4 separate regions of the Homo sapiens genome follow, and regions 1, 3 and 4 are each linked to region 2. The links come from fine-mapping of genetic effects on gene expression. A gene starts in region 2. Each other region holds a variant in brackets. All regions are shown on one strand. Distances are from middle to middle. Region 1 overlaps PHKB (phosphorylase kinase regulatory subunit beta). Region 2 holds the start of PHKB (phosphorylase kinase regulatory subunit beta). Region 3 has its middle 14 kb from the start of LINC02133. Region 4 has its middle 130 kb from the start of SHCBP1.

Region 1 (8,000 bases), 32 kb before region 2:
AGACTAAGTACTGTCTCTCATTCTTGTTAAAAGCACTCAGAAATTAAAAACAACTCAAGGTCACAATTAATCCATCTCTGGATTCAGGTAATGTATACCATATAGTCTAAGAACATAGCACAAAAATGAACCTATAATTTACCTAGTGGCAGAAATCACATTGGCACAGATTAAGATTCTGTTTTTAAAGAAAATTAAAGCCTTTATGCTCATAAAATTGCTGTGTCCAACATCCTAGTTTAAAGCCAAGGTTTTGGGAAGCCTTTATGTTTACGCAGATAGTAACAATAAGAAGAACGTAAAGAAAGGGCCTATACATTCAGGCAACAGTCTCATTATCTTCTGCTGAAAAGATAGGTAATTTGTAGATAAGACTTGCTCTGAGCGAAAAGAAGATTTTCTTACAAGAGTATTCACAATGGCACCAACAGGAATGGGTCCATAGTGAGGAACGGAGAGACCTATCAACATACAGAACATCAGTACTCCTTTCCTGCTTCAAAGGAAAGGACCCAGCCCCCTCCAGTCATGCCCTTGCCTTCCTGTATTCAACTAGCTCCAGGCAGGTATAAGCATATGGGTAGCCTGGCAATCAGAAAGGAGTAATATGCCACTGCTAGAGCATAAGGTAATAAGCTCTAGGAGTCTATACACTCCCAGTGAAGCTCATTCACTATGAAAGAAAATAAATTAGGTACAAATAATCATAATTTATAAATTGTGCATATGTATATATAAAAATTAAAGGGGACACCTTTGCTGAGGTGGAAGAATTGCGGGTAACATTTCTGTTTTTATTTAGATCTCTATTAGTAGAGGTAGTATTTTGCTTTACATACAAAACATAAATCACCAAGAGCTGAGTATATAATTCCATTAAAATTAAATGATACATGAGCATATGGATATAGAATATGCAAACTTAAATCAACCTGCATTACAATGGTAGGTGAATTGATTTTGAGAGATTGTTTTGATGATATTTATACCAAGATTTTAGATTTAAAAATATTTATTTTTAAAAGTGCTAGGATATTTAAGAACTAAGGGACTATAGTGATTCTGTCATCTAATTTTTCTTAAAAAAAAAAAAAAAGGAGTTCTGTTAGAGGCAACAATAAATAAACAAAAGGAAAATCAGACCTCTCAAGAAAATAAGTATCTATTCAGTAAGAGGAAAAATAGAAGATGTTCAAAGCATAGCAGAAAAGGGTAAAAGTAAAATCATCTAAATTATACATTCAAAGAACGCCCATGATAAGTCAAGAACAGCTTGGTTAGATAAATGTTATTATTTTAGTGATCATCATTGTATTGTTTCTAAAGTAACTACATAAAATTAAACAAGGATGTTCTACACAATTAACAAGGATGTTCTACACAATTTATGGTAAACAATACCACAAATCTAAGTCAAAGGAAAAGTAATCAATGTTAACATTTTAAACAAAAATAGGACATCTGGAAAGCATCAATGCCAGTAAAAATGGAGACAGCAATTAATAGAGCATGAATTCCCAAAGCAAATTAAAGAGCTACAAAATAACAGAAAATTCTACTAAATGTTCCAATTGAAATGAAATTGTAAAATGTTAATTTTTCTTTTCCATGCTTTTCCCATTCGCATTATGTCTATACGCAAACATCACAAAGTAAAATAAAACTTATCAATGATAGGAGAAAAATAGCTCAGAGCAGACTGAGCTAGGTGAGGTATGCAAAACTTACCAGGCTCAGGAAGACAAGAGTAAGGGACTTCAATCACACTTTCCTTCCTATGCACCCACACCCAAGGGCCATGTTTACAGGCATTTTTGTTCCTGACTAGCTGCCTTACCCATTATCTTCCAGTTCCTGGAATTTGTGATACAAAGAACAATATAGAGCTAATCAATAACTTTTATTATATTAATATAAGTTACTGGAAACACAACTTAGAAGCTGCCTCTTTCCTTTAAAATCCACCTGTAACTGATGCTAATCAGAAGATATATTCAGGGCAGCTTCTATCTATGCTTCCACATAGATTTAGGCTTGAATACTCTATAATGAATCACATTTTCGGAATCTAGTTATTTAAGGTTAACATTTTGGTACCCTAGATGAGATCGGAAGTGGACCTCTAGAGAGCCCCACCACTTTACCAGCAATCAGCACCTTGGTACCAATACGATAAGTCCTCCTTCACCCAACCTTGCCAAAGTCAGCAGGAATCTCTGCTAAGGCCCCTGTTGGGATCTGAATCCTCCTGGCTTGATTAAGGATTAAGACTTTATTCAATTTGTACATATTCTTAACTAGTTGAGGTTGGAAGTGAAGCTCTATAAAAGGCAAGAGTTTCATTTGTTATTCTCTAGAGATCTGTTGACCTCGGATTTGTGACTTTCATTTTTCTCTGAAGTTAAGGTTTTATTTTGAACTACTAGTTGGAGTTTTTCAACCTTTTCTATAGTTTAAACTTTGGTCTTTGAAAAGAGGAAGTGAATCTTTGAGGCTTAAGTGAAAAACATGTAATTTTAAAAACCAGTTAAATTCTGAAGCTTGGTTCAATTGATAAATCTAAAATGTTCTTGAGTGACCAAAATAATAAAAGGCTCTCATGAGTCCCACTAGGTTTCTGGTCATTCAGGAAGGAAAACGAAAATTATGGACAACTATCTCTAAAACCTAGACTTTGTCCTTAAAGGGTGACCCACCTTTAGAAACACCAGCTGGATTTATATTTAATGCTTATGGTGCCTCTTCATGCTAACATTTAGAAAACTGGTCACACGTAACTAAAGACGACCCCAAATTACAACGGTCGAAATAGTGTACTTTTAAAATACCTCAACTAGTTTATCTGTACTCTCAATTTTAAAAAGCTAGCTCTAAAATAAAATAACTAGGAGAGCTATTTTCAATGATACTTAGAAGTTTCTAAAAGAGGTTCTGACAAAGTTATTTCTTTGCAAAAGGAAAATGTAAAATTTTATAAAGTGACTTTTAAAATGAAAAGTGCTGCTGAAATTGTTCCTCTTCCTCTTTCTGTTTATTCTAACTGCTCTTCCCTTCCCCCCTCCTGCTCCTGGTGTACTGGCCTCATTTCAGGAATGAGACAGCAAGCATAAAGAGGTCCCCAGAGAACTTCCAACTGGCCTGCACACTGGGAGGAGTGTGCAACGGGGTGGAGCCTCAGGAAGTGCGCACTGTTTGCCAGAGGGAGGAGCCTGATCTCCCCTGTTCCAGGGTGGTACCTAGGATTCAATCTATGAGGCGGAAGCCAGCTAGCAAGACTTTGGCTTTGCTGAGACTCTCTGTTTACCTTTGTTTTCCTTTTTGCCCGATAAATTTTTCTTGCCCTTTAAAGTGCCTGCAAGCCTAATCTCTCATGGTTGTGTGACAAGGACCCCATTTTTAGGTGAACTAAGGAGAAAGTCCTACAACAGTTTAGCACCCAAC[G/A]TGGGGCTTAAGAAAGGGTGAGTGAGATGCAAACCAAATCTATTTTTATCTCATTTTTAAGCCTTTTCATCCTCAGACTTCTGAGGGCAGGGGAAACCATGCCCCAACCCCTGTCACTCCCAGGTGTTGAGAAGGTCAGCCTCAGTCTCCATGGCATTTTCCTTTCTTTTTTGTGACGGAAGGGCGAGCAGCAGCTCCCGCCACCCTCCCCTCCCTGCCAAGGCTGGGGTGCGTGAACCAAGGGTGCCCAACAGCAGGCAGCTCTCCCTGCCATGCATCCATAGAGCCTTCCGCTCCCCCAGCCAGAAGGTCCCACTCCCTTGAACAGTAATGAAGTCTTTCTCACTGATGGAGGCATCCATTTGCATAAAAATAAGAGGTTCCTCTTTAGGCATTTTAAACTGGTTTTTTCTTTCCTTTTCTCCACCAGATCAGCAGTTGACTTTTAAATTAGCTTTTTTTTCCTTTTAGAAGACATTTTAACTAGGCTAGGAATGATAAGGATCACTGTTTATATTCTCAGTAGAGTTTTAATTGTGAAAAAGGATTTGTGAGGCTGGTCTTAATCTGTAGCCAATCTAGTGTACTTTGTCCATCTTTCCATAGCAAACTTTGTGGCAGGCCTCCATTCTGTTTTACATCCTTGGGAGCAAGGCCTGCAACCACGTGGCAATGTTTTGTTCTAGCCTCACCATTTTACAATGGCAGCCAGGAGTTCAATCCTGCCTTAGGAAATGAGTTCTTTCTAGTTTGATATCTGCAGGACCTTTGCCATTTTTTGATTCCCTGCCCCTCCACAAACTGACTTGGATTTTCTTTCTCTGAGCCTTTAGTAAAGTTTGAAAGCCAGAAATATCAGCTGTTTGGCCTGGCTAAAGTCAGGTATTAAGAAATTTTAAAAGGACCTTATTAAAGAGTGCTATGGCTAAAAGTCAGTTTAATTAAAAGCAGATATTCAAGCTCCAACAGCCTGGGACTCCTTGGGAAAAACACGGGGCGCCAGATACCCCATTTTGCAAAAAACCTCTGTTTTCCTCATGAAACCCCAGGAACTGGAAGTGGATAAATCCCTCTCAGAATTTAGGGTTCTGTTCTGTTTTGCATTGTGTTATCTGGCATTTTTTACTTTTGGGAGTATCAGAAATTACTTCACATTATGAGAGATACATAAAGACTGGCAAATGAAAGGTCTTGCAACTACTGAATCTTCTTCTAGTCTGCCTGTCAGTGTAGCTATATATGTGTTGAGTGTGATGTCTATAAAAAGACCTCTAAGTAATTGGCCTAAAGGAAGAAAAGTGCTTGGATGAAATATTTTTTAAAGGGAAGATAAAAGCTATGGTACCTTTTAGTTCACGTGACTTTAATCTTTGGGAAATAACAACAGCCTTAAAGATTATTAGTAAAATGCAGATGTCACCAATATGTAAATAGGAGGACTAAATTATGCAGGTTAGATACTAGGCTCACTAAATGTTTTAAGGTTACAAACTGCCTTTTGGGTTTTAAGAACTATTTGACTTGCTTGCTTCACAACTGGTAAGGCAATTGACATATAGACATAGTTCTATATGTCTGTAAGGGACATATACTTCCTTACAAACATATAGAACTATATGTCTGTCCCCTTATAGACATATAGAATTAACCACACCCTTACTTATGCTGGAAGGAGTCAATTATGCTGGCTGTATCTGGCACACAATTAAAACAACTTGCCAGGATTTACATTAAAGTTCAAATTGCTAGGAGGTACCATTAAAACACATAATTGAAACTACTGGAAATAGATTTACATGCTAGGTGTATAAGAACAGTAAAATGTGTTTTTAATGAAAGATTATTAGAAGATAGGAAAATGTAAAGTATTGGCTAGGGTTAAAGAATTGTTTTGAATTAGATAAGGTAAAGCTGAAGGTTCAAACAAGTGGCAGAAGGATCGTGGAAATGATTCTTGCAGAAGAGGCTTTCTGTGTGAACATGTTGACTAGGTTCTGGGGGTTATTATGTGGTTTCTCTGTGGGTTGAGCATTGGAATGAAAGCACAACAGGGTACTCTTGGGGCACTGATCTGCCCTTTGGCAAAATTTGGAAAGGGTTATAAAAGGTTTTTGCTTCATTAAAATTTCTCAGTCAAATAATTTATGGTAATCTGGAAATCAATTTCATAACATCAAGTGTGTTAATCCTCTAACATATTTAACAGGCTTCCCAAAATCAAACTTGAGCCTCATAATTGCCTTTCCTGATACCTGGCTTTTGGAAGGCTTTAGAGGGCCCCTGGAGCCTCCAGAAAAGAGGTAAACAGGATCATCTGACATGTTTAGTTACATGGGATTGCCAGAATGATGTTCAATCTTCTTTAGGTTATATTTTGGTGAATACTAATATTTGCTCCAAAACTGTATGGAATTTCTAAAATTTAATGTCTAAGTATATGTTAGCAAACATAAGGTTAAGCTATTATAAACCACAGAGATCACCAAACTTCTTTGTCAATTATGTTTCTAACTGTAACTACCCTGGACATTTCTATTCACAGATAATTGTTGTCTTCTTCTAATTCTTTTCAAAAGATGGTTTATAGTAAGTGATAGAACTTTGACAGGTGCTCTCAAATACAGGTTTCTGATAACTTTGTAGATTGTAATATTGGAATAAAGAAAAAATGTACAGGACTCATGAAGAGCTGAAATGTTCATGAATATCAAGAAATCAAGAACTAAATGGACTGAACTCAGAAAGCTGAAGCAATTATTTTTGACTTCTGCTTGAAATATTGCTGATCCTTGTTTTGTTTTTCAGTGTGAAGGAAACTTATTTTAAACTATTTATAGCCTTTAATAATTGAGTAAGGTATATTCCTGTGAACAAAATTTGGAGCATGTTTGTTTCTCTCTGCCTGATTCCTCATGAACCTGGAAACTATCTGTGAGTATTCTTAACTTATGGCAATATAGATGTTTGCATCAGTGCAATAAGAATCCATTTTTCTTTTGCAGCAGGACACAATTGGAGAAACTGGTTGTTTTACCAAGATTTCACTGGAACGGTATGCTTCCCTTTAAAGAGTCAAGCTCAACTTGCATAGCTAATAAAAGCCCCATGGTAAAAACTGGCCTCATACCATTGCCTACGCAGTTCTTGTACAGTGCTCCTAACCCATGGTCAGTAAAGAATGTCACTTTCTAACAGGCCTACGAACTCCAAGTTTATCTTGGGACCTTAAGAGAGGGTTACCCAACTCACAGGGTATTTGAGGATACAAACCCATGGCTGGGCTCAGCTTTAAAAGGTCTTATCTGAGATTCCTTGTGGAACAGAGTTCCATCGAAACCAATCTAAAAAGCCTATGTAGAAATAGTTATTCTTGCTGTACTTTATGCAAATAGTCAGGATAAGTATAAGACTAAAGTCTATGTTGCAAACAACTCAGTCCTATCATGATTTGTTTCGTTTTGTTTTTTAGCAAAAATGAGTACTGGAGGAAGAGAAATTATGTTTCAAAACATATCACACATTTGTCATTAAATTCTAAACTCACTGGAGTTCTCCTCACGAGGTCAGGAGATCGAGACCATCCTGGCTAACATGGTGAAACCCCATCTCTACTAAAAATACAAAAAATTAGCCAGCCATGGTGGCATGCACCTGTAGTCCCAGATACTCGGGAGGCTGAGGCAGGGAGAATCACTTGAACTTGGGAGGTGGTCACAGTGAGTGAAGATTGCACCACTGCGCTCCAGCCTGGGCGGCAGAGCAAGACTCTGTCTCAAAAAAATACAAATACAAATAAAAAAACAGCCATACTACTCAAAGCAATTTACAAATTCAATGATACTCCTATCAAACTACCAATGACATTTTACACAGAAATAGAAAAAAAAATTTTTTTAATTCATATGGAACCAAAAGAGAGGCAATAGCCAAAGCAATCCTAAGAAAAGAACAAAGCTGGAGGCATCACACTACCTGATTTCAAACACACCACAAGGCAGCTACGGTAACCAAAACAGCATGGTACTAGTATAAAAACAGACACATAGACCAATGGAACAGGCTACAGAAACCAGAAATAAAGCTGCACACCTACAACCACCAGATCTTTGACAACATTGAAGAAAACAAGCATTGGGGAAATGACTCCCTATTCAATAAATGGTACTGGGATAATTGGCTAGTCATATGCAGAAGATTGAAACTGGATCCCTTTCTTTTACCATGTATAAAAATCAGCTCATAGTGGATTAAAGACTTAAATGTAAAACTTAAAACCATAAAAACCCTAGAAGAAAAGCTAGGAAATATCATTCTGGACATAGGCCATGGCAAAGATTTATAACAAAGAATCCAAATGCAATTGCAACAAAAACAAAAACAAAAATTGACAATTGGAACCTAATTAAACTAAAGAGCTTCTTCACAGCAAAAGAAACTACCGATAGAGCAAACAGACAATCTAGAGAATGGGAAAAAAATTTGCAAACTCTGCATCCAACAAAGGTCTAATATCCAGAATCTGTAAGCAATTTAAACAAATTAATAAGCAAAAACTAAAC
Region 2 (8,000 bases):
GGTGCATCAACACAACGGTCTAAGAGCCATTGTGCCAACATCTGTTCCAGCCCTTACACCAGGATGCCACAGGATAAAGGCCAAAGCACATGGCCTCAAAATATTCCCTGGGGCAAGTCGCTTCCTGTCTGTGAAAACGTGTATATTAATAACCTGCTTCACAGTAAGCTGATGAAGAACAGATAAGTGGGATGTTGACCAAAATTTCCTAATTTGTAGAAGTTACTTCCATTGTGGCAAGAAGACAAAAATCATTTAAGAAATATGCTATGTGCACATTTGACAATGGGAGCTCCCAGACACTAAGGAACTGCCTCTGCTTGCAAATATCGGGGCAGGCACTCCACTCTCTGTTCTTTTCACATCCCACATGAGAAGAACACAATAGGCCACATTCAAAACACAATGCAAAGTTAAACAAAACACCAGCCGGGTACTCAGGCCTGGGCCCACCAAAGAAGAAATAAAGACATAATGATATCTTATAGTGAAATCAACCTTCAGAAACAAAGGTATTTAAAATTACCAAGTGACCCTTTTGGGGTCTACAACACTTACCAGACCTTAAGAAAGCGGAAGACGGAGAGACGACTGCATCAGGTGAGCAGGCCATTTCAAATTGTTGGCTCTAATCATAAGCGTCGCAGGCTAAGCTATAGCAATTTTAAAACTGTTTAGTAAAGGTTAGAAGCAATCAGTGTTAAATTAATTGAAAGCAGTGTGAGCAGTTATTAACATGATGCAGTATGCAACAAAGGCAGTAACTGAGGATCATTATAATTTTATTTTCTCTTTTATGACTTGAAAATGTGATTTTCTTTGCTTTGATAAATTACACTTGCTCATATGGATGAGATAGAAACTATATAATATCCACTTATTAGACATTACATAAAAGTAGTATCCTCTGTTGTGCAGTGAAGTAATTATGCTACTATGTAACAATGCTCAGAACTCTGTGGGGAGGACTCTATACTGGAGTCAGGTTAGTCAAGTGTTTAACAAAGCTCCATTTATATATTCTTCTAAAAGTAACAAACAGAATCAAGTTGATTGCTTTTAATGATACAGGAAGTTATTAACTCGAGTTATTAACTTTATCCTCTGTACTTCATATACTTACAAGAATCTGAAACCTCAAATTTAACTATTAATTTGGAGGAATAACTTCAAGTGGTATCTCTTTACTACTATGATGTAAACATACAGGAACATTCAACATTGATACTATGCACTTTGCACATAAAAGTGGATTTAAATAACTGCACTCAACAACAGTTAACACTAGAATTTTTTTTCTCAGCTAAGAAAAGAGAATTAAGGTTTTCAAAGCTTACTGTTATGACATGCATTTCAGAGGAAACAAAGACTGACGAAGAAAATCAACTCTATGAGCTTATGAAAGTTAAAGAGAAATGTTGCAAAAATATATGTTGGGGGCAGTACTCAGGTCCCTGTAAGAAAACTCCAGTTATTCTCTTTGTTCAGACATAACCAATCCAATAACACTTTTTATATCCAGATAGCCACATCGTTAGTAGCCAACTCAGTATTTCTATATCACACAAAAACAATTTAAGAAAAAGTGTGAAACAAATACATGTGACTATTCCAAGTCACTTTATTGATTCTTAGTAGTACTAAGGACTACTTTTTGAAAAAATTATCTCATACTTCATAGATGGTAATTTTACTATAACCCTAAGTATATAAAGCTGAACTTTTTGTAAGGTATAAAAAAACAGAGTGTTCGGTGTATGATTTCTGAAATTAGATTTTCAGAAATTAGATTTACTTTCTCCAAAAAAAAAAAAAAAAAAGTCAGTGTGCACAACAGACAACTAAGAACTTCATAAATAGGAAAAGCCCAAAACGTAAGGAGAACATATTAGGTGAGAAAATAATTTTTTTTTTTTTTGAGACGGAGTCTCACTCTGTCGCCCACGCTGGAGTGCAGTGGTGCGACCTCCACTCACTGCAGCCTCCGCCTCCCAGGTTCAAGCAATTCTTCTGCCTCAGACTCCCGAGTAGCTGGGGTTACAGGCGCCCGCCACCACGCCCAGGTAATTTTTGTATTTTTAGTAGAGATGGGGTTTTACCAGGTTGGCCAGGCTGGTCTCGAACTCCTGACCTCAGGTGATCCGCCCGCCTCGGCCTCCCAAAGTGCTGGGATTACAGGCGTGAGCCACCGCGCCCGTCCGAAAATAATTTCTTAATATCAATGCAAGTGCAAAGTTAATTTTCCTAGCTAACACCTTTCACACCCACCCCCAATAATGACACTTCATCAATTCTTTAAAAGGGAAGCTCCTTAGCTGAAAACCTGCATTCCGCCTTTCACCTTTCCTGTTTAAGTGCATGCCTTTTGTTCAAGATTATATCCAGCCAACCAGGAATACAGGAAGTTTTAATAACGCCACAAGTCATGACGTTGCAATTTGAACAAGTCAGTTCGGGACACTTGGAACTGTTAAAACTGCCTGCAAGGCACCTTCTGACCTCTATGCTTTCGGGTTTGGAAACCACACAACCTGGGGCCACTTAAGAAGCCCTTTTCTTTCTGGGCCCTAACTATACTCTTCAATATCTGAGGCCCAGTCTCCTTCAGTTTCTGCTAGATAGATGACAGGTCTACTGCTTAGAACCTGTGGGGAATGTAAAAGGGATATAAGACATAAAGCAAGGAGCCCAGACGCCGGCTTTCTGCAGCCAGATCGTAGTTACATCTGACTTGGTCTGATTAAGCTATCTGACTTTTGCAGAGAACATTCACAGGAAAGACACATTCACAGGGAAGACACATTCCCTTTCCCAGGAATGTGCCGCCGCCCGATTTTTAAGTTAGAAGACTCTAAGGGAAGTCCGGACCGCTGCCTACTTTCCGAGTGGGGCTCACAAGCGGAATAGAGTCGGGGGCACACGCAGAGTGGAGCTGGCTCTGCCACCTAATTTTTAGAGGTGGAGGAAGATATTAGAAACAAGGCCAGGGCCGCCACCTGCTTTCTAAGGAGGAACTCGGGGCACAGGTTCATTCCCAGGGCCCCCACCTGCCTCCCGCCAAGGCGCTTGAGGCGAAGCACCACCCAAGGTACTCGGGTGGGGGGCGGCGCCCCAGCCAGCCAAACCTGAGCGCTTGGTCCGAGCTCTTCGCTCCAAGACCTTCCAGCTCACTTCTGCCGTGAGTCCCGCCGCCCCCGCCATCGCGCTCCGGTCGCCGCCTTGGCCACCGCCCCCGGGGCCGCCTGTCAGCAATGCCGGGCCACGCCCCCCGCACGACACTGTCGGGAGGCGCGCCTGCCGGAAGTGAGCGTGAGGGCGGCTTTCACCCTAGCTCCACTGCTTTTTTAGCGTCGGAAGGGCAGCCCTAGTGGGAGAGAGAAAAAGGAGCCGGCAGCGGCTCTTACGCGTCCCGGGGCTGCGCGCCACTCTCTCGGCCGGTAACGCGGTGCTTTGCGGCTGTCGTCAAGCGCGGCGTTGGGCCGGCGGGCGGGGGCTGAGGGGCTGCCATGGCGGCGGCGGGCCGGCTCCCGAGCTCCTGGGCCCTCTTCTCGCCGCTCCTCGCAGGGCTTGCACTACTGGGAGTCGGGCCGGTCCCAGCGCGGGCGCTGCACAACGTCACGGCCGAGCTCTTTGGGGCCGAGGCCTGGGGCACCCTTGCGGCTTTCGGGGACCTCAACTCCGACAAGCAGACGGATCTCTTCGTGCTGCGGGAAAGTCAGTGCTTGCCGGGCCCTCCCTCTGTTCGCTGTCCGTGTGCCTCTCCCGGTGTTCCCCAAACCCATTGCCCAATGGCCGGTCCTTCTGCATTTCCTGGTCCTTCTCTCCCAGCCCTGTGGCCTTCCCTTTAGCATTCTTAACAGCTTGTCCTTTTGCACCACCCTTTCCAACCCCAGGTTCTGACCCAGCTACCCTACAGTTTGACCTACCCTCAAAAGCCCTGACAGCACCTCAGTTTTGTTCCTAAGAAGTCTGCGGCCCTCACCCAGTCACCTTACCCCCTCCTCCCCATGGAATCACCTGTTTTCCAAAGTGCTTCCTGATTCCTAGGAATCTTTGTAGCTTGCCTCAACGTTCGCTCCCAAGGCCCACTCATTCCTTTCTATTTTGCTTCAGTCTTCCTTCCCCGTTGATGAACATGAAAAGGTGCAACCTGACAATCTCTTCTCATAGGGGGCTTCTTCTTGCCTCCCCACCTACCTAATTCGCCCACCCCTTTCTTTGTCAAGGCCACAACTTTCTATGAAGCGAATGTACCCTTCCAAGGGCCTAAACACTAAACAGCTCACACAAGCATTTTGCAGGGACCACTGATAAACCCAATGCCTCCTTGGGAAAGCAGTCTCAAACTACAGAAATTTCTCTCTTGAGCTGCCTGTTCTTTCGTGTACTCCTTCCTCATCTTGGTCATCACCTTAGTGTTCCAAATGTCTACTTTCTTTGCTAACTTGTTCTTGGAAATTCTTTGCTTTGACAATCGTTAAACTAACTTTTTTGTAAATCTTGATGCTGACAGTGGGCATTAGGGGGTCTTAGGGTTCTTGAGTACCTACAGAAGCAGGTGCTGCTTAAAGATCAATGCTGTGAAGGAAGGAAGGAAGAGCTACTCAGAGCTTGCCTGACAGGATCCTGAACCAGACTTCTTGGAGCCCTTGCGGGGATGCAGGAACCTCTTACAAACCCTGAATATTTTCCCAATCTTTTTGACTCCTCATTTTGCAGTGTACTGCCAAACCTGTTGCTGCTGTGTCCAAACTGGATACAGAGAGTAGCCTTGACTTTAAAGATGGCCTGTGTTTGATTAAACAATTCCAAAAGTCTGTCTCAATGAGTGCTAATTGAGCTCCAAGAATGTGTCACCCTCTGGAGGATGGCCCCATAGGAGGAGGGTCTTGGAGGATTCAGCATTTTGTGCTCACATGCTTAATTATGTCTTTGTCAGATATCTACAATGGGAGTCCCTGCATCCTTGGTGTGATGCATCTGTGTAATGAACCAAACAGCCTTACAAGGGACAGCATTGCTAGATTCGGGGAAGACAAGTCTTGACATGTAGTATAGTTATAAGGCATCTTTATATGGTTCTTTTAAGTCAACCAATCTGACTCCTCGCAGAATCCACTGGCTTCAGTTTCTCTTGATCAGCTGCTTTTTCCCATGTTCATCCTTTCTATTTCTCTGCTACTTTGAACATTGAACTTGTGATATAATGTTAGGCATCTCCATTGGACTAGTGGGACTATGCTTGAGAGGGCAGATGAACTGGAGTAGAATAAAAGTTTTCTTGTTGAGAACAGTGCCCAGAAACCTTCTTGTAACCACTGATTAGATATCTTATCAACAAACATTTTTCTAATATCATATATTTGTTTTCTTTAGGAAATGACTTAATCGTCTTTTTGGCAGACCAGAATGCACCCTATTTTAAACCCAAAGTAAAGGTATCTTTCAAGTAAGTACAAATATGATTATTTTGATAAAACTTTAGTCATTAATATAATAATGGATATGCAGTAGCTGATTGGTTGTCTTTAAAGTCAGCCTTAGTGTTGGGATGCAAAACCACTGTTTGTGAGGTATGAGTAGCAAGTGATTTTTTGGAAAAATAGTGAAAATACCAAAGTTTAAAAATGACTTTAAAGAAATAAATTTGAGTGGATCCAGGTTTGTTTCTATATAAACACCCTTTATTTCCTTGCAATCTCGTATCCCTCGTATCCCTTCTTGAATGTGTCTCGTTCTGTGCCTCATCTTGAGGCAGCAGTCACTCACAGTAGTCTCATTGTATTAGCCATGTGTTGTGTTTTGTGGAAGAGGGGCCTATTTTGCAGTGGGGAAAAAGTCAGTGTTCTAATTTTTTTGTTTAATTGACTGATGGTGAGTTTTTAAGGTTGACTTGGAAGGAATTCAAGTTTAATTATCTGAATTTTTAAAATGTTCAAGTAATAGTTATTTTTCTTTTCTGTGGTTGGCATTGCATGAAACAATGACCACTCCCACACCTCTACCTCCATGATAGTGACCCAACACAGTTTTGAAACTACATTCATTTGAAGCAAGCATTCGTGGCTGTCTGAATTCAAGCAAGAAGAGATGGGTCAGTGCAGGCCAAAGGGGCAGCTTCCAGAGTCATGGAACTTGAGCTTGACCTTAGTATAAATAAAAAGTTAGGTGAAGACGTTCAACTTGGAAGTTCAATTTTGGGGACAGAGCATTTATAAGAGATAAAAGTAAGAACAGCATGTTATGAAGAGGAGGTAGAAAGATCTGCCTGACAAAAGTGGAAGGTACACTTCGGGGAGTTAAGGACTAAGAACATGAGATAAGAAGGGCAGACTGGGAGCCTTCAGATACAAAAAAGAGTTTGAATGCTGTCCCATTAGAAGAGGGGAATCATCAGGTCCTTGTGCAAAGGAGAGATGATGAAAACAGTATTTTAAATTGATTTACTTGTAAACTATATGCAGAATGAATTGGTTTGTAGAAGATTAAAGACTACTTAGGAAGCTGTATTTAAAAAGTCCCTGTGTGGGCTGATTAGTTCTCAGACTCTACAGTATTTTGAGTAAACTCAAACTCATGTTAAAAAGAAAAATGGCCTTGAACTAGAACTTTGAGGGGAAAGTTATAAATGGATAAACAGGAACTTATTTCCCTTGAGAAGTGTTTTTGGGTAGTGAATGTCAGCATGCTTGGAGTGGGGAAGAAACTGAAGTTGAGTGTATATGAGAAGTGAACTAACTGCATAGAGGTGATTTTTTTTTTATTAGAAATTAAGGAAATTTAAAAGATGTAAATGGCATGTGTTCTGATAAGTTAAAACAAATATCCCAATTAATTTTTTTATTAATGCAATGCACTTTCAAAATTTAGAAACTCTTGTTTGTGTTATAATTTAAAATATTTTTCAAAGTAAAAATAACTATTCTTCACCCTTATTCTCCCCCACACCCCTGTTTCTCTCTCAGATGCAACCACTTTTAAAACCTGTAGCTGATTCTTCTAGTGTTTATTACCATATTTTAAAATAAAATTTTACACTAATTTTCTTGAATTATCATTTTTAAATATTCAATTCTTGTTTTTTAACTAACATAATTTATCTACATTGTCCCAGTGTAATTAAATCATAATTTTTTGTTAAATTAGTAATCATTGTTTACCTTTTAACCATGTGGTGTCTATGTACTTCAGAACCAAGTAATGTACAGTATTTCTTTTCTTTTTCTTTTTTTTTTTTTCTTGAGACAGAGTCTCACTCTGTTGCCCAGGCTGGAGTGCCTTGGCATCATCTCAGCTCACTGCAACCTTTGCCTCCCGGGTTCAAGCTATTCTCCCACCTCAGTCTCCCAAGTAGCTGGGATTACAGGTGCCTGCCACCATGCCTAGCTAATTTTTTGTATTTTTAGTAGAGATGGGATTTCACCATGTTGGCCAGGCTGGTCTCGAGCTCCCGACCTCAGGTGATCCACCTGCCTCGGCCTCCCAAAGTGCTGGGACAGTATTTCATTTTTTGTGCAGCTTGCCCTACTGGAATAAATGATTGCTTTTTAAAAAATAGATTGCATAGTTTTCTATGTACATACCCTTAATTTCTTTGCAGATATTCCATCATATCTGCCATATACCTATCCTGCATTTTTGTTTTTCCCATTGGATCCTCTACATTCCTATCCAGTCTGGATTCATTCTCCAGGCCTTTTGTAGACTTACTATGTGGGGAATTTCCCCATGTAAAAAAAGAAATTTCCTCATTTACTTCACGGGGGTGTGTCTTTCCAGAAATTCCTGAGAAAGGATGCCTGATAAGTCCTGTCACATCCAAAAAGTTTTTCTACCCACTTTTTTTTTTTTTTTTTTTTAGAGACAGAGTCTCACTCTGTTTCCCAGGCTGGAGTGCAGTGGCACAAGCTCAGCTCACTGGAACCTCCACCTCCCTGGTTCTAGCAATTCTCCTGCCTCAGCCTCCTGAGTAGCTGGGACTACAGGTGCACAACGCCACG
Region 3 (8,000 bases), 380 kb before region 2:
CCTAAGGCTTGTTTTTGAGAAAAAGATCTCATCTCCTCATTCCTGTGGCTCCCTAACCCCCTGTGTGCCTCCCCTCCACAGATGTCTTTGAGTCTCTGTCTTGCAGTGATGTACGAGGCCAAGCTCCCTCCCCATAGGCCATCGAGCCAGATGATTCATGCTGAACAATCTAGTACATTCTAACACAGCCTTCTGTGAAAGGCAGCTTGGCTCCAAAGCTGCAAAATACAAAGCCTTTCACAGCAACAGCCAAACAGGTAAATAAATGAATCAATACTCAAGCACTCAGCACATTCACGCATATTTACTATGGGAACACGCTGGACCAGGCCCAATACCTGGGCTCCTAACTGTGCTAGTCAATATCACTTGTCAATTAAAACCTAAAGGAGTTTTATCACTCCCCCTGACACCCCAGACTCCTGGCTCATAAAATGGATTTCAAGTCAGTGTAAATAGCTTGCTTTGCCCAGCAGCTGTGTTCCTGAAAAGTTTCTTGTAAATCAAATCATCTTTTAAAATGCATGAAACTTTCTGCTTAAAAGGAACCCTGTGATTAATCCTTTTGTAAGGCAAAACATCTTCCTGTAATATAAAAAATACTACTACCACCTCCCCCCATCTGGCTCTTCCTCCCCTTGCCACCTCCTGGTTACCACCTGCCCACCTCCACTCCATTCCATAGGTCAGCTTTAGGTGCAAATACCATTTTTAAAGAGGATTCACATTTTTGTGACTTGGAAGCAAACCAAGACCCATCTTTTTAACATGTATCTTACAAATATCCTGGTTGAAAAGCCTGCAGAATATACATCACTTGTTTGCAGATACCACAATACACAATCACCAGAAATGCTGATGAGCTTGGCTATGAAAGGAATGAGCTGATGCTCTCTAAGAGGATGGCTTATCATCCCTTACTCAAAACAAAATCGAAGGCAGCATCTTGGAAGGCAGGTGGAGACACGATTAAGGACGCCTTTACTTCCCCTCCCCAGCTCACGCCACTGCTTCCTGCTAGTGAAGATTGAAAAGAAGAATGAATCATGGAAAATACCATTCTCCAAATGTCATTGGGAACATCAGTCTATACTTCTGCCTAAAAATGAGACTAAAGACTAGCCCCATGTTTCTCCTTCTTCCAACATTTCAGATTTTTGCCATGCCTGTGAGCCACCTGTAGCATTACTTACTCGGTTTTAGTTAAATTGACTTCTTCTTACTTAGCCTCATGAGAACTGAGGGCCAAGGAAGAGCTTTCCCCTTGACCCTCTGAAGTTCTGCTGAAAAATCAACTCACAAAAGGCAGACAAATGTGTGTAATATGTATACACAGGAACCTTGAGAATGATGATGTAATTCCCTGGTTAGGTTCCAAAGCTTGCATAGCATCTCGAGGTTATAGAAATAATGCATGCTCAGAGCATGGCCCAAAACAGGTTAGGTTGGTAGATCAAGTTTAGTGCCAAGGCAGGTTATGAGAAGGGGAGAGGAAGGGGCCTGGCTACCAAAGGGGGTCTCATTATGTAGAGTAAGCCTCTTGGGTGGCAGCCCTAAAGAGAACATATGGTAAATGTCCCTTTTCTGACATTTAAAGGGTCAGACTCTCAATCTCCCATAGATCCAGGAAAGGCCTAGAAACGGAAGGCCTGGCTGCATCCATGGAGATTCTCTACAGATGCAAATTTCCCCCACAAAAGACAGCTTTGCAAGCCACTTCTGTCTGTTGGCTCTGTGGCAGCCATTTCAAAATATGTCAAATAAATAGATTTTGGAGTAAAATATCTTTATTTCCTTCAAGAAGCAATGAGATCCATGAAATTGCAGGTTTCAGATGTAGTTATATCTTTTCTAGAACACGTTAATGTGAGCTTATAACTGAAACCACCTTTGGAAAAATTATAACAGTGAGAAAATTATGACAATGAATGAGATCTGATCTAACTCACTTCCATCTTGCCTTTAACCTCCAAACTGCCCTAATTATTCCTGGGCCTAGTCCAAGTTAACTCTGGGAGACATTTAGTTTATACTTCAAATGGTAATATCCCTTCCCCGAAACTCTACCACTTTTGTAAGGCTAATGAAAGACCACCAGGTCAGGAGGATGACATGAGCCTGAATTCTGCTAACATGTAAAGGATTACCAGTCATTATGCTGGGGTTCACAAGATTTGCAACTTTCCCAATTATTCCTGCAGATAAATCACTCTTGTAGAACATAAGATTAGCCTCTTAAGATGTCTTTTCAGGTTTTTTCATTTCTGATGACAGATGGCTCCACCTGGACCTACCAAGGGGTCCGGTGGTCCCACTCAGAAGCAGACTGAGCATGCAGGAGGATCACTTTCCACACCCCTATGATGGCATCCTCAACCAATCAACAGCACCCATTCTCTGGCCTGCCAAACTATCCTTGAAAAACCCTAGTCTCCACATGTTCAGGGAGACTGATTTGAGTAATAAAATTCCAGTCTCCCATTCAGCTGGCTCTTCTTGAATTAAACTCTTACTCTAATGCAATTCCCCCATCTTGATAAGTCAGCTCTGCCTGACCAGCAGGCAAAATTAACACATTGGGCGGTTACATAACTATGTAAAAATGGGTTCATCCAGGTGCTACCTAAAGTCATCCTGTGGGCCACTATTGATACACGTACCACACTTTGCCACCACACTTTGAATGGACAAGGTAACCAAATATGATTGAGCCATGCTAGTCTTAATTCCCTTACCATTGTTTGCCTACCTGCGCCTGCATTCACTCAACAAACATTGGTATCTACCATGTATGGTCATTGTACAAGGCATGAATGAGGAGAGAGGAGAGACTCTGTGCCTTTGAGAGCTTACGGTTTGGTGGAGGAGGCTGAAAGAGAGAGAGTTGTGATCTAGCATGTTGTACAAAGAACTGGAGGAACACAGAAGAGACATGAGCTCTACTTCAGGAATAGGAACTTCAAAGACAGCACTTTGGCTGGGCTTAGAAGGGTGAACAAGATTTGCTCTGATGAGGGGAGCGAAGAGAAGACATTCCAGGAGAGAAAATAGCAGTGTACAAAGGCTCAGAGGTATGTGACAGGAAGATGCAGGCAGAAGGGGTGGGTGCTCTGGCTGGCAGGAGAGGGAACAACAGTTTTTAAAAATCACATGATGGGAGTCTTTGGTGTAGACTTGGTGATAATGTCCTCAAGGTTAATCCATATTTTTGCAGGTAACAGACTTCCTTCCTCTTAAGGCTGAATGATATTCTATTACAAGTTGTTATAGATTGAATTGTGCCCTTACCCAAGTGTAGAAGCCTTAGTTAACCCCCAATATAACTATATTTGGAAATAGGGCCTTTAAAGAGGTAATTAGGGTTACATGAAGTCGTAAGTGTAGAGCCCTAACCTAATAGGACTACTGTCTCTATAGGAAGAGGAAGAGACACCAGGGAGGCACTTACACAGAGAAGGGATGAATGGAAGGACATGGCAGGAAGGCAGTCCCCTGCCAGCCACGGAGAAAGGCCTCAGATAACCCAACCCTGCCACACCTTGATCTTGGACTTGTAGCATCCGCAGCTGTAAGAGAATAAATTTCTGTTGTTTAAGCCACCCAGTTTGTGATATTTGGTTATGGTGGCACTAACAAATTAATAAATATGTATATATGTGTGTATCCATTCATCTGTCAATGGACATTGGGATTGCTTCCACCTTTGGGCTATTGGGAATCATGCTGCTATGAACATGGGTGTGCAAAGATCTCTTCAAGACCTTGCTTTCAATTCTTGTGGATATATATCCAGAAGTGGAATTGCTGAATCATATGGTAATTCTATTTTTAATTTTCTTGAGGAAGTTTCATACTGTTTTCCATAGCAGCTGTGCCATTTTACATTCCCAGCAGCAGTGCACAAGGGTTCCTATTTCTCCATATCCTCACTAACACTTGTTTTCTGTGGTTTCTTTTTTTTTTTTTTTTAATAGCAGCCATTCTAATCGGTGGGAGGTGGTATCACATGGTAGTTTTTCTTTGCGGTTCCCTAATGATCAGTAATTCAGTGATATTGGGCATCGTTTCATGTGCTTATTGGCCATCTGTAAATCTTTGGAGATTCAATGTATATTCAAGTCCTTTGAACATTGCTGAATTATGTTGTTTCCTTTTTTGGTGTTGAGTTTTAGGAGTTTACTATATATTATGGATATTAATCCATTATCAGTGTCTTCTTATATTAATAAGAAAAATAAAATGAAACAGTGGTAAAGTGTTGGGGCAGCAAAAATTTGGGGGGATGGTATGGAGAGATAA[C/T]GGGCGATGTTTCTCAGAGCTGCTTTGAGTGGGATTAGGGGTGGGATGGGAACCTAGAGTGGGAGAGATTAAGCTGAAGGAAGATTTTGTGGTAAGGGGTGATATTGTGGGGTTGTTGGAAGGAGCATTTGTCATATAGAATTATTGGTGATGGCCTGGATATGGTTTTGTATGAATTGAAAAACTAAACGGAATAAGAGAAGGAGAAAAACAGGTATTAAAGGACTAAGAATTGGGAGGACCTAGGACATCCAATTAGAGAGTGCCTAAGGAAGTTCAGCATAGCCCTGCCAGCAAAGATTATTTATTTAAGAGTTGAGAGTGGTGGTTTGGGGATAGCACCAGGAGATATCAGCTGTGATGGCTTGGAGAAACAGTGTAAACTGGCAGTGTAAACAAGGGCAGGGCATTTATGAGTAGTTGAGAATGGTGAATAGGAGTATGACTAGACAGAAGATAGTAGAGATGACAAGTTTTTTGGGGCACAGTCCAAATTGACCTGGTGTCTGGAATGAGACTGGGCCCTAAGAAAAAGGAGGGTCTACACAGGAGCTCAAATGGGCTGTACCCTGTAGCATTCCAAGGACAGGCCCAAATTCTCAGAAGGGAAAGTGTTAAGAGTATTGTCCAGTCCTTTTTAAGTTGGTGGCTGAGCTTGGTGAGGTGTGTTTTTAAAAGACCATTAGTTCACTGAGTACCAAGAGCCTGAGAAACTGCTTGGGTGAGTTGACTAATAAAGGCTGGTCCGTTATCAGACTGTATAGAGGTAGGAAGGCCAAACCGAGGAATTATATCTGACAGATGGGAAGAAATGACTGCAGTGGCCTTCTCAGACCCTGTGGGAAAGGCCTCTACCCATCCAGTGAAAGTGTCTACCCAGACCAAGAGGTATTTTAGTTTCCTGACTCGAGGCATGTGAGTAAAGTCAATTTGCCAGTCCTGAGCAGGGGCAAATCCCTGAGTTTGATGTGTAGGGAAGGGTGGGGGGGGTGCCTGAACAATCCCTGAGGAGTAGTAGAATAGCAGATGGAACACTGAGAAGTGATTTCCTTAAGGATAGATTTCCACGATGGAAAGGAAATGAGAGCTTCTAAGAGGTGGGCTAGCAGCTTGTAACCTACATGGAAGAGGTTATGAAATGATGACAGGATAGAATGGGCCTGTGAGGCTGGAAGGAGATATTTTCCATGGTCTAAGAACTATTTGCCTTGTGTGGGAAGAGATTGATAGGTGGAAGTTTTAGTCGGGGAGTAGGTGGGAGTGGCCAGATGAGAAGGAGGAAAACTGCCGTGAGTGATAGAAGTTGGAATGCTAGCTGCTTTTTTAGCTAACTTATCAGCATAAGCATTGTCCTGAGCCATGGAATCTGATGCCTTTTGATGGCCTTTGCAACAAATGACTCCAGCTTCCTTTGGAAGTAAAGCAGTTTTGAGAAGCATTTTTATTAAAGAGGCATTAATGATGGAGGACCCTTGCATAGACAGGAAACCTCTTTCAGCCCATATAAGAGCATGGTGGTGCAGGACATGGAAGACATATTTAGAGTCAGTATAAATATTGATGTGTAGTCCCTTTGCAAGAGTGAGGGCCTGAGTTAAGGCAATAGTTCAGCTTGCTGAGAGGTAGTGGAGGGGGCAGAGTGGTAGCCTCAATGATAGGTGTGGAAGATACTATAGCATAGCCTGCCTTTGCTGGTGAGTGGCGATTAGGCCTAGTGGAACTGCCATCAATAAACCAAGTGTGTTCAGGGTGAGGAACAGGAAAGAAGGAAATATGGGGAAATGGAGTGAATGTCAGGTGGATCAGAAAGATACAGTCGTGGGGGTCAGGTGTGGTATCAGGAATAATGTGGGAGGCTGGATTGAAGTCCGGAACAATGGTAATTGTGGGAGACTTAACAAAGAGTGAGTATAGCTGAAGGAGCCGGGGAGCAGAAAGTATATGCATCAGGTGGGAGGAAGAAAATAGATTTTGGAAGTTATGAGAAATGTACAGAGTGAGTTGAGCATAGTTTGTGATTTTGAGGGTCTCTAAAAGTATTAAAACAGTGGCAGCCACTGCACGCAGACATGAGGGCTAGGCTAAAAGAGTAAGGTCAAGTTGTTTGGACAGAAAGGCTATAGGGCGTGGTCCTGGTCCTTGTGTAAGAATTGCAACCACACAGCCCTGCACTTCGGCTGTGTGTAATGAAAAAGGTTGGGATGAGTTAGGGAGATCTAGTGTGGGAGCAGCTTTTAGGGCTGTTTTTAAGGAACAGAAAGGGGAGTGGGGAAAGGATTTAGGCTCTGTGGGGTCAGCTAGGATTTAGGCTCTGTGGGGTCAGCTAGGTTTGCTTTTGTGAGTTTATATAATGGTTTAGTCAGGATGGTAAAACTAGGTATCCTAGGTACCTAGGTACCTAGGCAGAAGTACCTAACCATGCCTAGGGAGGAAAGGAGTTGTTTTGTAGAAGGGATTTGGGTTTGGGAGATTAGCTGGACATGATCAGCAGGAGAGCACTTGTGTTTTCATGAGAATTATGCCGAGATAGGTAACAGATGAGGAAGAAATCTGGGCTTGACTGAAGTAATGGGGGCTGTCTGTGAAGCCTTGAGGCAGTACAGCCCAGGTAATTTGCTGAGCCTGATGGGTGTCAGGGTCAGTCCAAGTGAAAGTGAAGAAAGGCTGGGATAAAGGGTGCAAAGGAATAGTAAAGAAAGCATGTTTGAGATCCAGAACAGAATAATGGGTTGTGGAGGGAGGTATTGAGGATAGGAGAGTATATGGGTTTGACACTACAGGGTAGATAGGCAAAACAATTTGGTTGATAAGGCACAGATCCTGAACTAAGCTGTAAGGCTTGTCTGGTTTTTGAACAGGTAAAATGGGGGAATTGTAAGGAGAGTTTATAGGCTTTAAAAGGCCATACTGTAACAGGTGATGGATAACAGGCTTTAATCCTTTTAAAGCATGCTGTGGGATGGAATATTGGCATTGAGTGGGGTAAGGGTGATTTGGTTTTAATGGGATGGTAAGGGGTGTATGATCAGTCACCAAGGAGAGAGTAGAGTTGTACTATACTTGTGGATTAAGGTGGGGAGATACAAGGGAAGGATGTGAAGGAGGCTTTGAACTGGGGAAAAGGGCGGCAATGAGGTGTGGCTGTAGCCTTGGAATAGTCAGGGAAGCAGCTAATTTAGTTAAAATGCCTAGACCTAATAAGGGAACTGGACAGGTTGGGATAACTGAAAAGGAGTGCATAAAAGAATATTGTCCAAGTTGGCACTAGAGTTGGGGAGTTTTAAGGGGTTTAGAAGCCTGGCCATCAATACCCACAACAGTTATGGAAGCAAGGGAAACAGGCCCTTGAAAAGAAGGTAATGTGGAGTGGGTAGCCTCCATATTGATTAAGAAGGGGAAGGACTTACCCTCCACTGTAAGAGTTACCTAAAGCTCGGTGTCTTTAATGGTCCTGTAGGCTTCCGAGGCGATCAGGCAGTGTCAGTCTTCAGCAGCTAAGCTGAGAAGATCTGGAAAGGAGTCAGTCGGAGAGCCTTGGGCCAGAGTTCCAAGGGCTCTAGGAGTGGCTGCTGGGTGAGTTGGACAGTCTAATTTCCAGTGGGGTCCCACACAGATGGGACACAGCTTAGGAGGAATCCCGGGCTGTGGGCATTCCTTGGCCCAGTGGCCATATTTCTGGCACTTGTGGCAAGCTCCTGGAG
Region 4 (8,000 bases), 970 kb after region 2:
AGATCTTTCCTGCTTTCTCTTGTGGGCATTTAGTGCTATAAATTTCCCTCCACACACTGCTTTGAATGTGTCCCAGAGATTCTGGTGTGTTGTGTCTTTGTTCTCGTTAGTTTCAAAGAACATCTTTATTTCTGTCTTCATTTCATTATGTACCTGGTAGTCATTCAGGAGCAGGTTGTTCAGTTTCCATGTAGTTGAGCGGTTTTGAGTGAGTTTCTTAATCCGGAGTTCTAGTTTGATTGCACTGTGGTCTGAGAGACAGTTTGTTATAATTTCTGTTCTTTTACATTTGCTGAGGAGTGCTTTACTTCCAACTATGTGGTCAATTTTGGAATAGGTGTGGTGTGGTGCTGAAAAGAATGTATATTCTGTTGATTTAGGGTGGAGAGTTCTGTAGAGTCTCTTAGGTCTGCTTGGTGCAGAGCTGAGTTCAATTCCTGGATATCCTTGTTAACTTTCTGTCTTGTTGATCTGTCTAATGTTGACAATGGGGTATTAAAGTCTCCAATTATTATTGTGTGGGAGTCTAAGTCTCTTTGTAGATCACTAAGGACTTGCTTTATGAATCTGGGTGCTCCTGTATTGGGTGCATGTATATTTAGGATAGTTAGCTCTTCTTGTTGAATTGATCCCTTTACCATTATGTAATGGCCTTCTTTGTCTCTTTTGATCTTTGTTGGTTTAAAGTCTGTTTTATCCAAGACTAGGATTGCAACCCCTGCCTTTGTTTGTTTTCCATTTGCTTGGTAGATCTTCCTCCATCCCTTTATGTTGAGCCTATGTGTGTCTCTGTATGTGAGATGGGTTTCCTGAATACAGCACACTGATGGGTCTGGACTCTTTATCCAATTTGCCAGTCTGTGTCTTTTAATTGGATCATTTAGCCCATTTACATTTAAGGTTAGTATTGTTATGTGTGAATTTGGTCCTGTCATTATGATGTTAGCTGGTTATTTTGCTCATTAGTTGATGCAGTTTCTTGCTAGCCTCAATGGTCTTTACAATTTGGCATGTTTTTGCAGTGGCTGGTACTGGTTGTTCCTTTCCATGTTTAGTGCTTGCTTCAGGAGCTCTTTTAGGGCAGGCCTGGTGGTGACAAAATCTCTCAGCATTTGCTTGTCTGTAAAGTGTTTTATTTCTCCTTCACTTATGAAGCTTAGTTTGGCTGGATATGAAATTCTGGGTTGAAAATTCTTTTCTTTAAGAATGTTGAATATTGGCCCCACTCTCTTCTGGCTTGTAGAGTTTCTGCTGAGAGATCAGCTGTTAGTCTGTTGGGCTTCTCTTTGTGGGTAACCCCACCTTTCTCTCTGGCTGCCCTTAATATTTTTTCCTTCATTTCAACTTTGGTGAATCTGACAATTATGTGTCTTGGAGTTGCTCTTCTCGAGGAGTATCTTTGTGGCATTCTCTGTATTTCCTGAATTTGAATGTTGCCCTGCCTTGTTACATTGGAGAAGTTCTCCTGGATAATATCCTGCAGAGTGTTTTCAAACTTGGTTCTTTTCTCCCTGTCACTTTCAGGTACACCAATCAGACGTAGATTTGGTCTTTTCACATAGTCCCATATTTCTTGGAGGCTTTGTTCATTTGTTTTTATTCTTTTTTCTCTAAACGTATCTTCTCACTTCATTTCATTCATTTCATCTTCCATCGCTGATACCCTTTCTTCCAGTTGATCGCATCAGCTCCTGAGGCTTGTGCATTCATCATGTAGTTCTCATGCCATGGTTTTCAGCTCCATCAGCTCCTTTAAGGACTTCTCTGCATTGGTTATTCTAGTTAGCCATTCATCTAATTTTTTTCAAGGTTTTTAACTTCTTTGCCATTGGTTCAAACTTCCTCCTTTAGCTCGGAGTAGTTTGATCTTCTGAAGCCTTCTTCTTTCAACTCGTCAAAGTCGTTTTCCGTCCAGCTTTGTTCCATTGCTGATGAGGAGCTGCATTCCTTTGGAGGAGGAGAGGTGCTCTGATTTTTAGAGTTTCCAGTTTTTCTGCTCTGTTTTTTCCCCCATCTTTGTGGCTTTATCTGCCTTCAGTCTTTGATGATGGTGATGTACAGATGGGTTTTTGGTGTGGATGTGCTTACTGTTTGTTAAGTTTTCCTTCTAAAAGTCAGGACCCTCAGCTGCAGGTCTGTTGGAGTTTGCTCGAGGTCCATTCCAGACCCTGTTTGCCTGGGTATCAGCAGCGGTGGCTGCAGAACAGCAGATATTGGTGAACCGCAAATGCTGCTGCCTGATCGTTCCTTTGGAAGTTTTGACTCAGAGGAGTACCTGGCCGTGTGAGGTGTCAGTCCGCCCCTACTGGGGGGTGCCTCCCAGTTAGACTACTTGGGGGTCTGGGACCCACTGGAGGAGGCAGTCTGCCTGTTCTCAGATCTCAAGCTGCGTGCTGGGAGAACCACTACTCTCTTCAAAGCTGTCAGACAGGGACATTTAAGTCTGCAGAGGTTACTGCTGCCTTTTGTTGGTCTGTGCCCTGCCCCCAGATATGGAGCCTACAGAGGCAGGCAGGCCTCCTTGAGCTGTGGTGGGCTCCACCCAGTTCGAGCTTCCCAGGTGCTTTGTTTACCTACTCAAGCCTCAGCAATGGCGGGCGCCCCTCCGCCAGCCTTGCTGCCACCTTGCAGTTTGATCTCAGACTGCTGTGCTAGCAATGAGCGAGGCTCCATGGGCGTAGGACCCTCCGAGCCATGTGCGGGATATAATCTCCTGGTGTGCCGTTTGTTAAGCCCATTGGAAAAGTGCAGTATTAGGGTGGGAGTGACCCGTTTTTCCAGGTGCCATCTGTCACCCTTTTCTTTGACTAGGAAAGGGAATTCCCTGACCCCTTGCGCTTCCCAGGTGAGACGATGCCTCGCCCTGCTTTGGCTCCCGCACGGTGCACTGCACCCACTGTCCTGCACCCACTGTCTGGCACTCCCCAATGAGATGAACCTGGTACCTCAGCTGGAAATGCAGAAATCACCCGTCTTCTGTGTTGCTCACGCTGGGAGCTGTAGACTGGAGCTGTTCCTATTTGGCCATCTTGGCTCCCATAAGTTATTTTTTCTTGATGTCTCTTTGTTTAAATCAAATTTTCTGTTTATTTTTTCCTAACAAATTACCCAAAGTTGAGTTGCTGAAAACAACATTTATTTAGTTCAGCCATCTGTGGGTGGGGAAAACTTTGGCCAGGACAGCTTGTCTCCATTCCCCTGAGCTTCACTTGGGATAAATCAGAGGTTGGAGGACTGGAATCCTATGAAGGCATGTTCCCTAACTGTCTGGTTGTTCATGATGGCCATTGACTGAAACTTTAGTTGGGGCAGGCAGCTGAAATACCTTCATTGGAACTCTTAGGCTATCTTTGTGGCCTGAGCTTCCTCACAACGTGGGGTCTAAGTTCCAAGGACAAGCAGTGTGAGGTAGAGGGCCTTTTCTAACTTAATGTTGGAAGACACGTGGTATCACTTTTACCACATTTCTTCATTAGAGGCAAGTCAGTAGGGTTGGCCCACAGTCTACTTCTTTATAGGATAAATTTTTTTCTTCTATTTTTATTATTTATCTATTTATGTATATTAGAAATGGATCTCACTGTGTTACTCAGGCTGGCCTTAAACTCCTGAGCTCAAGGGATCCTTCTGCTTCAGCCTCCCAAATTGCTGTGACTACAGGCATGTTACGCCATGCCTGGCTTTCTTTTATATTCTGTGGTCATGTATATTTGTACATATTTATAGGATACACAGTAATATTTTGATACATGTAAACAACGTATAATCGTCAAATCAGGTTAATTATTATATCAAGCACTTCAACCATTTACCATTCTTTTTTTTGTGAACATTTATAATCCTCTCTTCTAGCTTT[CA/A]AAAAAATACAATAAATCATAGTTAATCATATTCACCCTACAATGCCACAGAACACTAGAGTTCATTCTATCTAGTGATAATTTCTTTTCCATTAACCAACCTCACCCCATCCCCCACTCCCCTTCATTTCCCAGACTCTAATGTCCACAGTTCTTTTCTCTACTACCACGAACTCATTTTTAAAAAAAATTTAGCTCCCACATGAGTGAGAACATACAGCATTTGTTCTTCTGTGCCTGACTTATTCTACTTAACATAATGTCCTCTAAGGTCATCTATGTGGCTGAGAATGATATAATTTTATTCTATTTTATGGCTGAATAGTCTTCCATTGTGTACAGATACCACATTTTCTTTATGCATTCATCTGTTGATAAACATTTAGGTGGATTCCATATCTTAGTAATTATAAATAGTGATACAATAAAAATGGCAGTGCTGGTATTTCTTTGATACATTTATTTTCTTTCTTTTTGATAAATACTCAGTAGTGGGATTGTTGGATTGTTTTATAGTTCTATTTTTAGTTTTTAAGAAACCTCCATACTGTTTTCCTTAATGGCTATACTAATTTACATTCCCTCCAACAGTGCATAAGAGTTTCCTTTTTCTGCAACCTCACCAGCATTTTTTACTTTCTGTCTTTTTGATAGTAGCCATTCTAACTGTAGTGAGATGATATCTCATTGCAGATTTATTTCATTTCCTGATAATTACTGATGTTGAGTATTTTTCATATATTTGTTGGCCATTTGTACATCTTCTTTTGAAAAATGTCTATTCAGATCCTTTGCCCACTTTTTAATCAGATTATTAATTTTGTTTTTGCTGTTGGGTTGTTTGAGCTCTTTATATAAGCTGAATATTAGACCTTTGTCAGATGAATAAATTGCAAACATTTTCTTCCATTCTACAGATTGTCTCTTCACTCTGTTGGTTGTTCCCTTTGCTATGAAGAAACTTAAATTTTAATATAGTCTCATTGGTCAGTTTTCGCCTGTGTTTTTGATGTTTTAGTCATCACAGCTTTGCCTAGACCAAGGTACTGAAGCATTTCTGCTATGTTCTCTTCTAGTAGTTTTATAATTTTGGTTCTTAAATTTTCTTTAATCCATTTACAGTAGATTTCTGTATATGGAGAACTATAAGGATCTAGTTTCATTCTTCTGCCTACAGATATCCAGTGTTCCCAGCCTTATTTGTTGATGAGAATGTTCTTTCCCCCATGGATGTTCTTGACATTTTATCAAAAATAAGATGGCTGTAAATATGTGGATTAATTTCTGGGTTCTCTATTCTTTCTGTTGGTCTTTGTATTTGCTTTTATACCAAAACCGTGTGTTGTGGTTACTGTATCCTTGTAATATAATTTGAAGTCAGGTAGACTGATGCCTCCAGCTTTTTTTTCCTCAGGATTGGTTGGCTAGTGTGGCTCTTTTTTGGTTCTATGAGTTTTAGAGTCATTTTTCCTAACGCTGTGAAAAAATGGTGTTGGTAGCTTGATAGGAATAGTGTGGATTGAATTTGTAGATTGCATTGGGCAGTATAAGCATTTTGATGATACTCATTCTTCCAATCCATGAGCATGGATTTTTTTCATTTGTTTGTTTAATTTCTGATTTCTTTTGGCATTGTGTATAGTTCTTCTTGTAGAAATCTTTCATTTATTTGGTCAGATGCATTTCCCGGTATTTTTTTTTTTGTGGCTATTTATAAATGGGATTGTGTTCTTGATTTGGCTTTCACCTTAAACACTATTGGTGTATTGAAATGCTGCTAATATTTCCACGTTGATTTTGTAACTAGAAACTTTACTGAAATTGCTGTCAGATCTAGGAGCGTTTTGACAGTCTTTAGGGCTGTCTAGGTGTACAATCATATCATCTGAAAAGAGAGATAGTTTGACTTCTTCAGTTCTTACTTGGATGCCTTTAATTCCTTTCTCTTGCCTGATTGCCCTGGCTAGGACTTCTAGTACTATGTTGAATAGGAATGGAGAGAGTGGGCATCTTTTTCTTGTTCCAGTTCTGAAGGAAAATGGTTCCAAGGTTAGCCCATCGAGTATGATGTTGGCTGTGTGTTTGTCATAGGTGGCTGTCATTATTTTCAGGTATGTTACTTTGATGCCTAATTTGTTGAATGTTTTGATCATGAAGGAATATTGCGAGTCTACTGAAAGTTTTTCCTGCATCTGTTGAGACGATCATGTGGTTTTTAAGAATTCTGTTTATGTGGTGAATCACATTTATTACTTTGTATATGTTGAACCAACTTTGCATCCCAGAAATAAAGCCTGTCAGATTGTAAAAAAGTGAATTTTGGGTCAGGCACGGTGGCTCTTGCCTGTAATCCCAGCACTTTGGGAGGCCGAGGTGGGTGGATCACGAGGTCAGGAGATCGAGACCATCCTGGCTAACACAGTGAAACCCCGTCTCTACTAAAAATACAAAAAAATTAGCTGGGCATGGTGGTGGACACCTGTAGTCCCAGCTACTCGGGAGGCTGAGGCAGGAGAATGGCTTGAATCCGGGAGGTGGAGCTTACAGTGAGCTGAGATCACGCCACTGCACTCCAGCCTGGGCCACAGAGCGAGACTCCGTCTCAAAAAAAAAAAAAAAAAAAAAAAAGTGAATTTTTGATGTGTTGCAAGATTTGGTTTGTTAATGTTTTGTTGAGAATTTTTGTGTCTATGTTCTTCAGAGATATTGTCCTGCAGTTTTCTTTTTTCACTGCATCTCTTTCAGCTTTTAATATCAAGATGATGCTGTATTCATAGAATGAGTTAGGGAGGAGTCTCTCAAACTCGATACTTTGGAATAGTTTCAGTAGGATTGGTAACAGATCTTCTTTGTATGTCTGGTAGAATTTGGCTCTGAATCCAATAGGTTCAGGGCTTTTTCTTTGGTTACTAGGTTTCTAAATTACTGATTCCATTTCAGAACTTGTTATTGTCTGTTAAGGATTTTAATTTCGTCTTGGTTCAATCTTGGGAGGTTTTGTATTTCTGGGAATTTATCCATTTCCTCTAGATTTCTTAGTTTCTGTGCATAGAGGTGTTCATAATAGTCTTTGATGATATTTTGTATTTCTGTGGGATCCATTGTAATGCCATCTTTGCCATTTCTGATTGTGTTTATTTGAATCTTCTCTATTTTTTCTTTGTTAATGTAGCTAGCTAGCTATCGATCTCATTTATCCTTTCAAAGGACAAACTTTTGGTTTTGTTGATTACTTGTAAGGATTTTTGTGTCGCAAATTTATTCAGTTCTGCTCTGGTTTTAGTTATTTCTTTACTTCTGCTAGCTTTGAGGTTATTTGGTTTTTGTTTTGCTAGTTCTAGTAGGTGCGATTTTGTTAGTTTGAGACCTTTCTGGCTTCTTGATGTCTGTATTTAGTGCTATAATCTTTTTTCTTAATACTGGTTTTGCTGTATCCCAGAAATTTTGGCGTGTTCTGTCTCTGTTTTTATTTATTTTCAAGAGTTTTTAATATCTGTCTTTATTTTGTTGTTTACCCAAAAGTCATTCAGGAGCAAGTTGTTTAATTTTCATATAATTATGTGACATTGAGAGAAATTTTTGGTATGGATTTCTATTTTTATTCCACTAGGGTCTGAGATATTATGCTTGGTATACTTTCAGTTTTTAAAAAATGTATTGAGAGTTGCTTTATGGCTGAGCATGTGGTCGATCTCAGAGTGTGTTCCCTGTGCCGATGAGAAGAAAGTACATTCTGTGATTGTTGGGTGGAGGATTCTGTAAGTGTCAATTAAGTTCAATAGGTGAAATGTTAAATTTAATTCTAGAATGTCTTTGTTACTTTTCTGTGTCAGCAATTTGTCTAATGCTGCCAATGAGGTGTTGAAATTTTTAACTATAATTGGGTGGCTAACTAAGTCTTTTCATAGATCTAGAAGTACTTGTTTTAGAAATCCGATGCTCCAGGGTTGGGTGCCTATATATTTAAAAATATTTATGCCTTCTTGTTGAATTGAGTTCTTTTATCATTGTGTATCATTCTTTATCGTCTTCTTCTTTGTCATTTTTAAAAACTGTTGTTGGTTTAAAGTGTGTTAATCTGATATAAGAATAATGACCCCTGATTTTTTGTTTTCTGTGTGCATGATAGATCTTAGTTTATGC

Evidence for each region.
Region 1: its variant is fine-mapped to the expression of PHKB in whole blood (TOPMed, PIP 0.92).
Region 3: its variant is fine-mapped to the expression of PHKB in whole blood (INTERVAL, PIP above 0.99).
Region 4: its variant is fine-mapped to the expression of PHKB in cerebellar hemisphere (GTEx, PIP above 0.99).

The regions. Positions count from the first base shown.
Region 1 is chr16:47,488,287-47,496,286 of GRCh38, reverse strand. The region is part of intron 1 of PHKB (phosphorylase kinase regulatory subunit beta); the gene reads right to left. Among named protein-coding and RNA genes, the nearest start is that of PHKB, 31 kb to the right of the region's middle. RefSeq lists enhancers at 3,301-3,370, 3,662-4,184. The variant G/A (reference allele first, on the strand shown) is at 3,442.
Region 2 is chr16:47,456,552-47,464,551 of GRCh38, reverse strand. PHKB (phosphorylase kinase regulatory subunit beta) reads right to left here and starts at 3,221. Exons shown (of 31, transcript NM_000293.3): 1 at 3,126-3,221. The coding sequence starts at 3,201. ITFG1 (integrin alpha FG-GAP repeat containing 1) reads left to right here and starts at 3,489. Exons shown (of 18, transcript NM_030790.5): 1 at 3,489-3,714; 2 at 5,377-5,449. The coding sequence starts at 3,507. RefSeq lists a silencer at 3,111-3,580.
Region 3 is chr16:47,840,783-47,848,782 of GRCh38, reverse strand. No RefSeq gene overlaps it. Among named protein-coding and RNA genes, the nearest start is that of LINC02133, 14 kb to the left of the region's middle. RefSeq lists an enhancer at 1-280. The variant C/T (reference allele first, on the strand shown) is at 4,300.
Region 4 is chr16:46,484,898-46,492,897 of GRCh38, reverse strand. It overlaps the pseudogene ANKRD26P1. Among named protein-coding and RNA genes, the nearest start is that of SHCBP1, 130 kb to the left of the region's middle. The variant CA/A (reference allele first, on the strand shown) is at 3,857.